Linked DNA regions of Homo sapiens. The protein of the gene in region 1 purifies or fractionates together with the protein of each later gene. This does not show direct contact. Each region holds a gene or a part of one and is shown on either strand. Other genes may lie near its edges.

Evidence for each region.
Region 2: the proteins of TRIM38 (region 1) and H2AZ2 purify together in Homo sapiens (affinity purification with mass spectrometry, with the first as the bait; one large-scale study listed by BioGRID). This does not show direct contact.

Annotation. Positions count from the first base shown.
Region 1 is NC_000006.12:25,965,588-25,969,402, forward strand, and holds part of TRIM38 (E3 ubiquitin-protein ligase TRIM38), read left to right. Parts: intron 1-747; 5' UTR 748-935; coding exon 936-1,346; intron 1,347-3,737; coding exon 3,738-3,815. UniProt on the Homo sapiens protein: E3 ubiquitin-protein and E3 SUMO-protein ligase that acts as a regulator of innate immunity. Acts as a negative regulator of type I interferon IFN-beta production by catalyzing 'Lys-48'-linked polyubiquitination of AZI2/NAP1, leading to its degradation.
Region 2 is NC_000007.14:44,845,154-44,849,501, forward strand, and holds the start of H2AZ2 (histone H2A.V), read right to left. Parts: upstream 2,935-4,348; 5' UTR 2,819-2,934; coding exon 2,816-2,818; intron 1-2,815. UniProt on the Homo sapiens protein: Variant histone H2A which replaces conventional H2A in a subset of nucleosomes. Nucleosomes wrap and compact DNA into chromatin, limiting DNA accessibility to the cellular machineries which require DNA as a template.

The DNA.
Region 1 (3,815 bases):
CTCCACTACAGCCTGGGCAAGAGAGCGAGAACTTGTCTTATAAGAAAAGAAAAAGAGGCTGGGCACGGTGGCTCATGCCTGTAATCCTGGCACTTTGGGAGGCTGAGGCGGGTGGATCACAAGGTCAAGAGATCGAGCCAACCAACATGGTGAAACCCCATCTCTACTAAAAATACAAAAATTAGCTGGGCGTAGTGGTGCACACCTGTAGACCCAGCTACTACTCGGGAGGCTGAGGCAGGAGAATCGCTTGAACCCGGGAGGCGGAGGTGCAGTGAGCCGAGATAGCGTCACTGCACTCCAGCCTGGGTGACAGAGTGAGACTCCGTCTCATTAAAAAAAAAAAAAAAAGTTAGAAGACTGAGAAAAGAAAAATAATGAAATAATTTAGAGCAGTCTGAGCTATGTGAGGTATGCAAAATTTATCAGGACAAGTGAGGCAGGAGTATAGGTCTTCAGTTAAGACCCCATGTTTAAAAGCATTTTGTTCCTGACTGGCTGCCTCATCTATTACCTACATATTCCCGAGATTTGTAATACAAAGAACAATGTATAGCCAGTCAAAAGCTTATGCTATTTTAATGTAAATTCTTGGCAAACAACTTTAAAACTGCTTTAAAACTGCTTTTTTTCCTCTAAACAACCACTTGTAACTGCTTGCTAATGAGGGCAACTTGAAACTCTGCACTTGGGTTGCAGTTCTCAAACGTGGCCCAAACAACCTCAGCCTCAACTTCTTCCTTTTAGGTCCTCTTTTCTTCAATACAAAATGAGATAATAGGGGTTGGAAGGAAAACCTTCAAGACCTATGGAAGTCAGTTGCAGCCAGCTCATCACATAGAGGTGCAGGTGAGGTGTATTTTCATCACGGTGGAAAATTCTGGCTGCTTCATCTCCATCTCTAGAGCCAATATTGGAGCTTTTCAATAAAAGCTATGGCCTCAACCACCAGCACCAAGAAGATGATGGAGGAAGCCACCTGCTCCATCTGCCTGAGCCTGATGACGAACCCAGTAAGCATCAACTGTGGACACAGCTACTGCCACTTGTGTATAACAGACTTCTTTAAAAACCCAAGCCAAAAGCAACTGAGGCAGGAGACATTCTGCTGTCCCCAGTGTCGGGCTCCATTTCATATGGATAGCCTCCGACCCAACAAGCAGCTGGGAAGCCTCATTGAAGCCCTCAAAGAGACGGATCAAGAAATGTCATGTGAGGAACACGGAGAGCAGTTCCACCTGTTCTGCGAAGACGAGGGGCAGCTCATCTGCTGGCGCTGTGAGCGGGCACCACAGCACAAAGGGCACACCACAGCTCTTGTTGAAGACGTATGCCAGGGCTACAAGGTGAGTGTGTGGGCCCGGGAGCTTTGGTAAGTACCAAGTCTTATCCTGCTCCCCAGGAGCTGAGATGATTTAACTTGAAACCTAACATTATGACTTGGAAATACAGCTTTCATCATGTCATTCTTCTGAAAAATAGTTTATGATGATTTCTTGCTCAATTATCTAGACTGTCCATCCTGACCTTCAATGGGATGGTTGGACTCTTATCTCTATCCATTTGTGTTATGATGAATTTCTTTTTGCTTTAGAACAGGTTGTTCTCAAACCAAACACCCGCATTTTTTCTTGTTTCACACCATGAATATCATTTGAAAAACCACAATATGTAAAGCCATGCAGTAGGGCCTGAAAACAGGGAAGAAAGACCCATCACCTTTTAGGTATCTACAGTCTAGTAAAGAAAACAAACCATCAAAAATGTCTGCCTGGAGGTCCCTGGTTTTGGTGGTGGGGAGGGACATTTAGGGTAGAGAGTGGTTCATCTTAGAAGTAACTCCTGAAGGACACGTAAAAATTGAACACCTATTGGGGGATTTTCATTTGGGGAATGAAGGGTCAGTGACATTGAAAATATCACTCTGGTACCTCTACTTTTTTTTTTTTTTTTTTTTTTTTTTCCTGAGGTAGGGTCTTGCTCTGTATCCCAGGTTGGAGTACAATGGTGCAATCTCGGCTCACTGCAGCCTCAACCTTCTGGGGCTCAAGCAATCCTCCCACCTCAGCCTCCCAAGTAGCTAGGACTACAGGGATGCCCCACCATACCTGGATAATTTTTTTATTTTTTGTAGAGACATGGTCTGCCTTTCTTGCTTATACTGGCCTCAAACCCCTGGTCTCCCTCCCATCTCAGCCTCCCAAAATGCTGGGATTAGAGGCATGAACCACTGTGCCCAGCTACTGTGGCATGTCTATGATAAAAGGAATATCAAGGAGTAAAATTCAAACTATCCGTATAAGAAAGGGAGGAGAGGGCAGATTTTAAGCACGATTCAGGAAGAAGAGTCAAAGATTTGGAAATGCTTGGTTGTGGAAGGTGAAGCAGAGGGAGAGGTTTTGTGTACCATCCAGATTTCTTGCCAGAAAGCATATTAAGGAAGGTGGGACTTTGCTGTTGGCAGCATGGAGGAATGGGCATAGTCCTGATGTCCTTTTTCCTTCTCTGTCCTGCCTAAATTTGAGGAAAATGTTGTCTCCAGTGTCAGGCTCCTTATTCTGTCCTCCATGAGGCAGAGGTGGTCTTGTATGAAGGCTCTAAGTCCTTCTAAGGACATGTCAATCATGACCACCACTCAGCTCATGGCAGCTCTTCCTTAAACTCCATGGAGCAGCTAATAACTGCGATGATCATATTCCCATTTGAATTACTTTTCCACCAAGTAGTAAGAAAAGGAACCAGCTTATGTTGAAATTGAGTTTTGTCACTTACTAGATGGGCAATTTTGGGCACGTTACTTAATGTCTTCACACCTTGGTTTCTCCATCTGTAAATGGGGATAATAGCAGTGTCCTCCCTCCCTAAAACACATACACAGGAGGTGGTTATAAGCTTTGAGGACATTAAAATATAGAATGCATAGAATAGCACTTGGCATATAGTAAGGACAATGTCATCTTTTGCTAAAACAGTTACATAGAACCTTTTCCTGAGAACACTCGAGAATGAATGAGTATACTTGTTGGGTTTACAGAGGACAGGAGACAATTCTTTCAGCATTGACTACAATTAGCAATTTGGGTCAGCTTCAAATCACTTTCAATAGAAATATGAGAAACTGTTTTGAAGAATAAGCTAAAAGCTTGACATGAATACTAAATCATTTTAAATTGGATTCATGATACCATTGTTCAAAAGATACCAGAATTCCCCTCTTCCATGAACTGTTTCTAATAACCAGCTGGCATCCTGATTTTTCCTGACTCATAAGACACAAAATTTCATGTGTGCCAAACACTGGTATTGGTTTTGCTTGGTTCAGCATGTTGTTTTACAAAATCTTTTAGATGATGATTACCTTGTTCTATATCCAACTTTTTCCTGGCAGGACTCTAGTGGTGGACATAGCTCAGGCTCTGGGTCAGCAGATGAGATTGCAATTGTTGCTCCACCACCTGGCAGTCATAGCCCTTTGGGCAAGTTATTTTACCCCTTTCTTAGTCTCATTTTCTACAGCACAGAAATGAAGTTTAAAATCCTACCAACTATTCAGGGTTGCCAAGGGGATCAGTATGTTCCTGCACATATAGCCTTTAGCATGCTCTCTAGCAAAAAACAATGAGGACTCTATAAATATTCACTATTATTCAAATATATCTTAGAAGATTGGGATTCCCCCTAGGTCCCTAATGAAGAGTCAAATTGAATAGGCTTCACTTATCAAATTTTTCCTTCAGGAAAAGCTCCAGAAAGCTGTGACAAAACTGAAGCAACTTGAAGACAGATGTACGGAGCAGAAGCTGTCCACAGCAATG
Region 2 (4,348 bases), on another chromosome or scaffold:
AATTGCACGTCTAAGTGGATTAAGTGCGTGTCACCCAAGATAATATGGAAGAAAAACAGTAAAACCCTGGCAGGTATCAGAAACAGGAAAAATAAAAATCTAAGAACTAATTCATATTCACTCTCTTATATTAGGTAATTCAACAAGAGACTGATTTAAGTTTACCAGTAAGAACTGAGACGCTCTCTATTTCTACCAGAATGCCTCATATTTTAATAATTTTTGACTATGTTGTTATATAAGAAAAATACAATTTTTGGATTTTTGAGGTCAGCTCCACTAACAAGACAGTCTTACTTACTTCTCAAATAAAAAACCCTTGTTACCTCCATTTGCCCTAATATATAACACTTAAAAACCTCTCAACTGGCATCTAAAATTATAATCACTGTCTTCCTATGACTGGATTGGAAAAAATAAGAAGTAGTCACTAATAAAAAGCCAACAACTACAAAATTCCCCAGGCTCCCCAGGTCATATAATAACTACTCTGCTTAAGCAATTTTATCCTCACTGTTTCAGATATGTCATATTTGGTGTTCTATTTGCTTTTTAAGGAAGTAGACATACAGTCAGGTTTTAAAAGCCTCAATCCATTAAATGACTATTTCCAACATTTAGAGATTCCTGATACATTTCTCATACTTAACAAAAGAAAACTTTTATGGTATCAAACTTATCTGAATATAAAACTATACAATAAATGGATAATTACTTTCTTTCCGATATCCCCTCAAACTGTATATATAGCCTCCCTACTTTGAACATTCATTTTAATATAATTGGTGCTTGAGAACCCAAATCTAAATTTTTTAATTCCAAGAACTGACTTCGTATTAACCTGAGTTAAGGTTGTTGGTTTTAAAAAATTACACACACACACACACACACACACACACACACACACACAGAGAGAGACAGAGAGAGAGAGAGAGGAGGAAGTAGGAGTTCGTTCATTTTACTTGGATAAACTTGCAAACTGGATACTAAGACACTTTCATGTCAGTTTTAACAGACATCTGCTTACTTCCTCTCAGGTTTAAAATCTATCAAGAACGACAACTCAATGTCTCCTGCATTTTTAGCTTATGTTAATACTTATGTATTTTTAGCTACTGGTAAGTGGATATAAAACATATAGCGTATCACTAGAGATTGAAAAATATCTGAAAAACTAGAATTGGCCGTGCGCGGTGGCTCACGCCTGTAATCCCAGCACTTTGTCAGGCCGAGGGGGGCGGATCACAAGGTCAAGAGATCGAGACCATCCTGGCCAACATGGTGAAACCCAATCTCTACTAAAAATACAAAAAATTAGCAGGGCGTGGTGGCGCACGCCTGTAGCTATTCGGGAGGCTGAGGCAGGAGCATCGCTTGAACCCGGGAGGCGGAGGTTGCAGTGAGTGAAGATCGCCCATTGCACTCCAGCCTGGCAACAGAGTGAGACTCCGTCTCAAAAAAAAAAACCACAAAAAACCACAAAAAACAAACAACAAAAAACCAAAAAAAAAAAAAACCACAAAAAACTAGAATCATGAAAATCATCTGTTTGAGCAAATCCTTTTACAGATTAGATGTAAGCTGTACCTCAGTTTGATAAAGTACTATAAAGTACTTTACAATAACAATAAACTATACGTGAGACGTTGGAAGCAATTATCCCTAAAGTCTATTCCAGCTCTAAGATTTGGGTTTTTTACAATAACAATAAACTATACGTTAGACGTTGGAAGCAATTATCCCTAAAGTCTATTCCAGCTCTAAGATTTGGGTATTTTACAATAACCAAACATTGTCCTCTCGACTGGCCAATCTGTTTACAGTTAGGTGTTATGTCTATTCAATACCATATCTGTCACATCAAGCACAAGACAAATCATCTAATACTATCTGCAGTATGATAAATGACAGCTTGGTGCTAACTTTTAAGCAGGTAGCTCCCGTTGAAGTAACCTTTCAACAGAATGCTTAAAGCACGAATACCGGCAAAAATAAGATTCCATAACAGTCTTATTATTTTTACACAATCTTTGATGCAACTCAGAGCGTATCCTTTAGCACCTTCTCTTTTCCCCTCAACTTTAAAATGGGGCTGAAGTTCTATTCACTTTCATTTTTTTAAAGCCACACTCTTCTTATCTAGATCTGAATTTCAGAATGAAAAGATGAATACTTTAAGACTGAAAATCCATAGCAAGGGCAAAGGAAAGTACTGTTGTATAATGAAAACCGCAAACTGCAAGGGGCTCAGAAGATAACGGGCGTTCATTTCTAACCTGTGCAATCACCTAGAACAAATCGTGTGGTTCTGGTCTATAAAACCATTCTTTGTCGCTCAAAAGACCACAAATACAAGCACCCTTTCGCAGAAACCCTCAAACTGACTGCCAGGGAGATTACGTAACCAAACATCGCCAAAGACTTATCTAACTTGTACAGCGGCAGCCTGTTTGACCTCATTCATACAGAGAAGCGATCACATTAAGATCCAGCACTTGTTTCTACATTTCCAAGCCGGATTCTGCCGTCCTCCTCCTTCTAAGACGGGCGGTGCAGCGTCACAAGCGTCGGGACAGATCTATCCGGCTCGGAACAGACTTCGCGCTCTACCCGGCCAGGCCCAGCTCTCACCCGGGGACCCGTGTCGGGCTCCGCAGCTGGGACATGGCGCCCCCCGGCGGGCGGCGAGGGGCTCGGCCGGACGAAGCCCAGACACCCGCAAACTCCCGACTCCACAGGTAGCGGCGCCGACGCCAGGGCCTCCGCGCTCTGCTCTCCCAGGCCCCGTGCCCCCGGCCCACCCGGCCGCCCTTACCATGTTCTCGGCGCCGACTCCGCCTCCGCTCGGCCGCGCGCCCTCCCGCTGCCGACCCGCGCCGCCGCCGCCGCTCTCGCAGCACCGACCGCCGCCGCCGGAGCCGGACAATACCCCGTGCCCGCCTCGCGCTGCTGTGGCCAATGCCCGCTTGTCTTGCTGGTTCGAACCCCAGCGGCTGTTCAATCGCGCGCCTCCTTCTAGCCAGACCCCGCCCCCCCGGCACCGCCTTCCTAACGGCTGTTTGTTTTTGCACACGGCACGCGGAGGCGGGGCCTCCAGCCCCAATAGTGACGCGCTCTCTGCCTTTCACCAGGCGCCCAAGCCTGACGAACAGAAAGGCAAACCAATGAGATTGGACGCCTCGCAGACGAAAGCCAATAAAAATATCGCCCGCGAGCAAGGGAGGCGGGCCACTGGGAAGGACAGCAAAATTAGCTAATAAGGTGAAGCGATTGCAGGCGCTGTGGCTTTCCCGCCCATTCGCGGCGTTGGTTTTCCCGCTTCTGAGACTTGTTTGGGGAGGTAAAGAGTGTTGGACGTGCTTCTCCTGGTGGGTTTTCACAGACTGTGAGGATTTATTCGTCTTAGAACGTGTGGATCAGGAGGGCGCTGGGTTTCAAGGTTAGGCAGGCCTCATGCTCAGCCGTATTCTGGCGGACTGACTACCCTGACGTCCTCTCAGCGCGGACCCTGACAAGGTCCGCGGCAGGCTGAGGCGGGAGAATCGCTTGAACCCCGGAGGCGGAGGTTGCAGTGAGCCGAGATCGCGCCACTGCACTCCAGCTGGGCGACGCATCGTCTCAAAACAAACAAACAAAAACAAAAGCTATCAATTGGCTACATATTGTTATTTGTATGACAAATTCTTTTTCCTTTTTTAGAGATGGAGTCCTGGGACTACAGGCGCGCGCCCCAATGCCCAGCTAACTTTTGTATTTTTAATAGAGACGGGGTTTCTCCGTGTTGGTCAGGCTGGTCTCGAACTCCTGACCTCAGGTGATCTGCCCCCCTTTGCCTCCCAAAGTACTGGGATTACAGGCGTGAGCCACCGCGCCCGGCATGTATTACAAATTCTAAGAACACGAAGATAATGGGGCCGGCTTGGTGGCGCGAACCTGTAGCCTCACCTACTGTCAAGACTGAGACAGGAGGATCTCTTGAGCCCAGGAGGTCGAGGCTGCAGTGAGTCATGATCGCACCACTGCACTCCAGCTTGGGAGACAGAATATACCCTGTCTAAAAAATAATAATAAAAAAAAAGGTAATGGATGAGGCCGATAGTCAGGAATGAAATGACTTTAAACAATTGGGTATGCATGGGATTGGGTATGTGTGTATGTGGGGGCAGAGGGTGGGCATAACCGAAGTCCCATACTCATGTCCCTCTAGGCCTAATACATTTTGCAGACCTCACAGAGCTCAGACTGTTGTGAGCCGTTTTTCTTTTCTCAACCTCTTCAGTGTGTTTATTTTGCTTACATCATTAGGTTAAAATTTGGAGGATAACTCCCAGCTAGAAAGGAAGAAAAG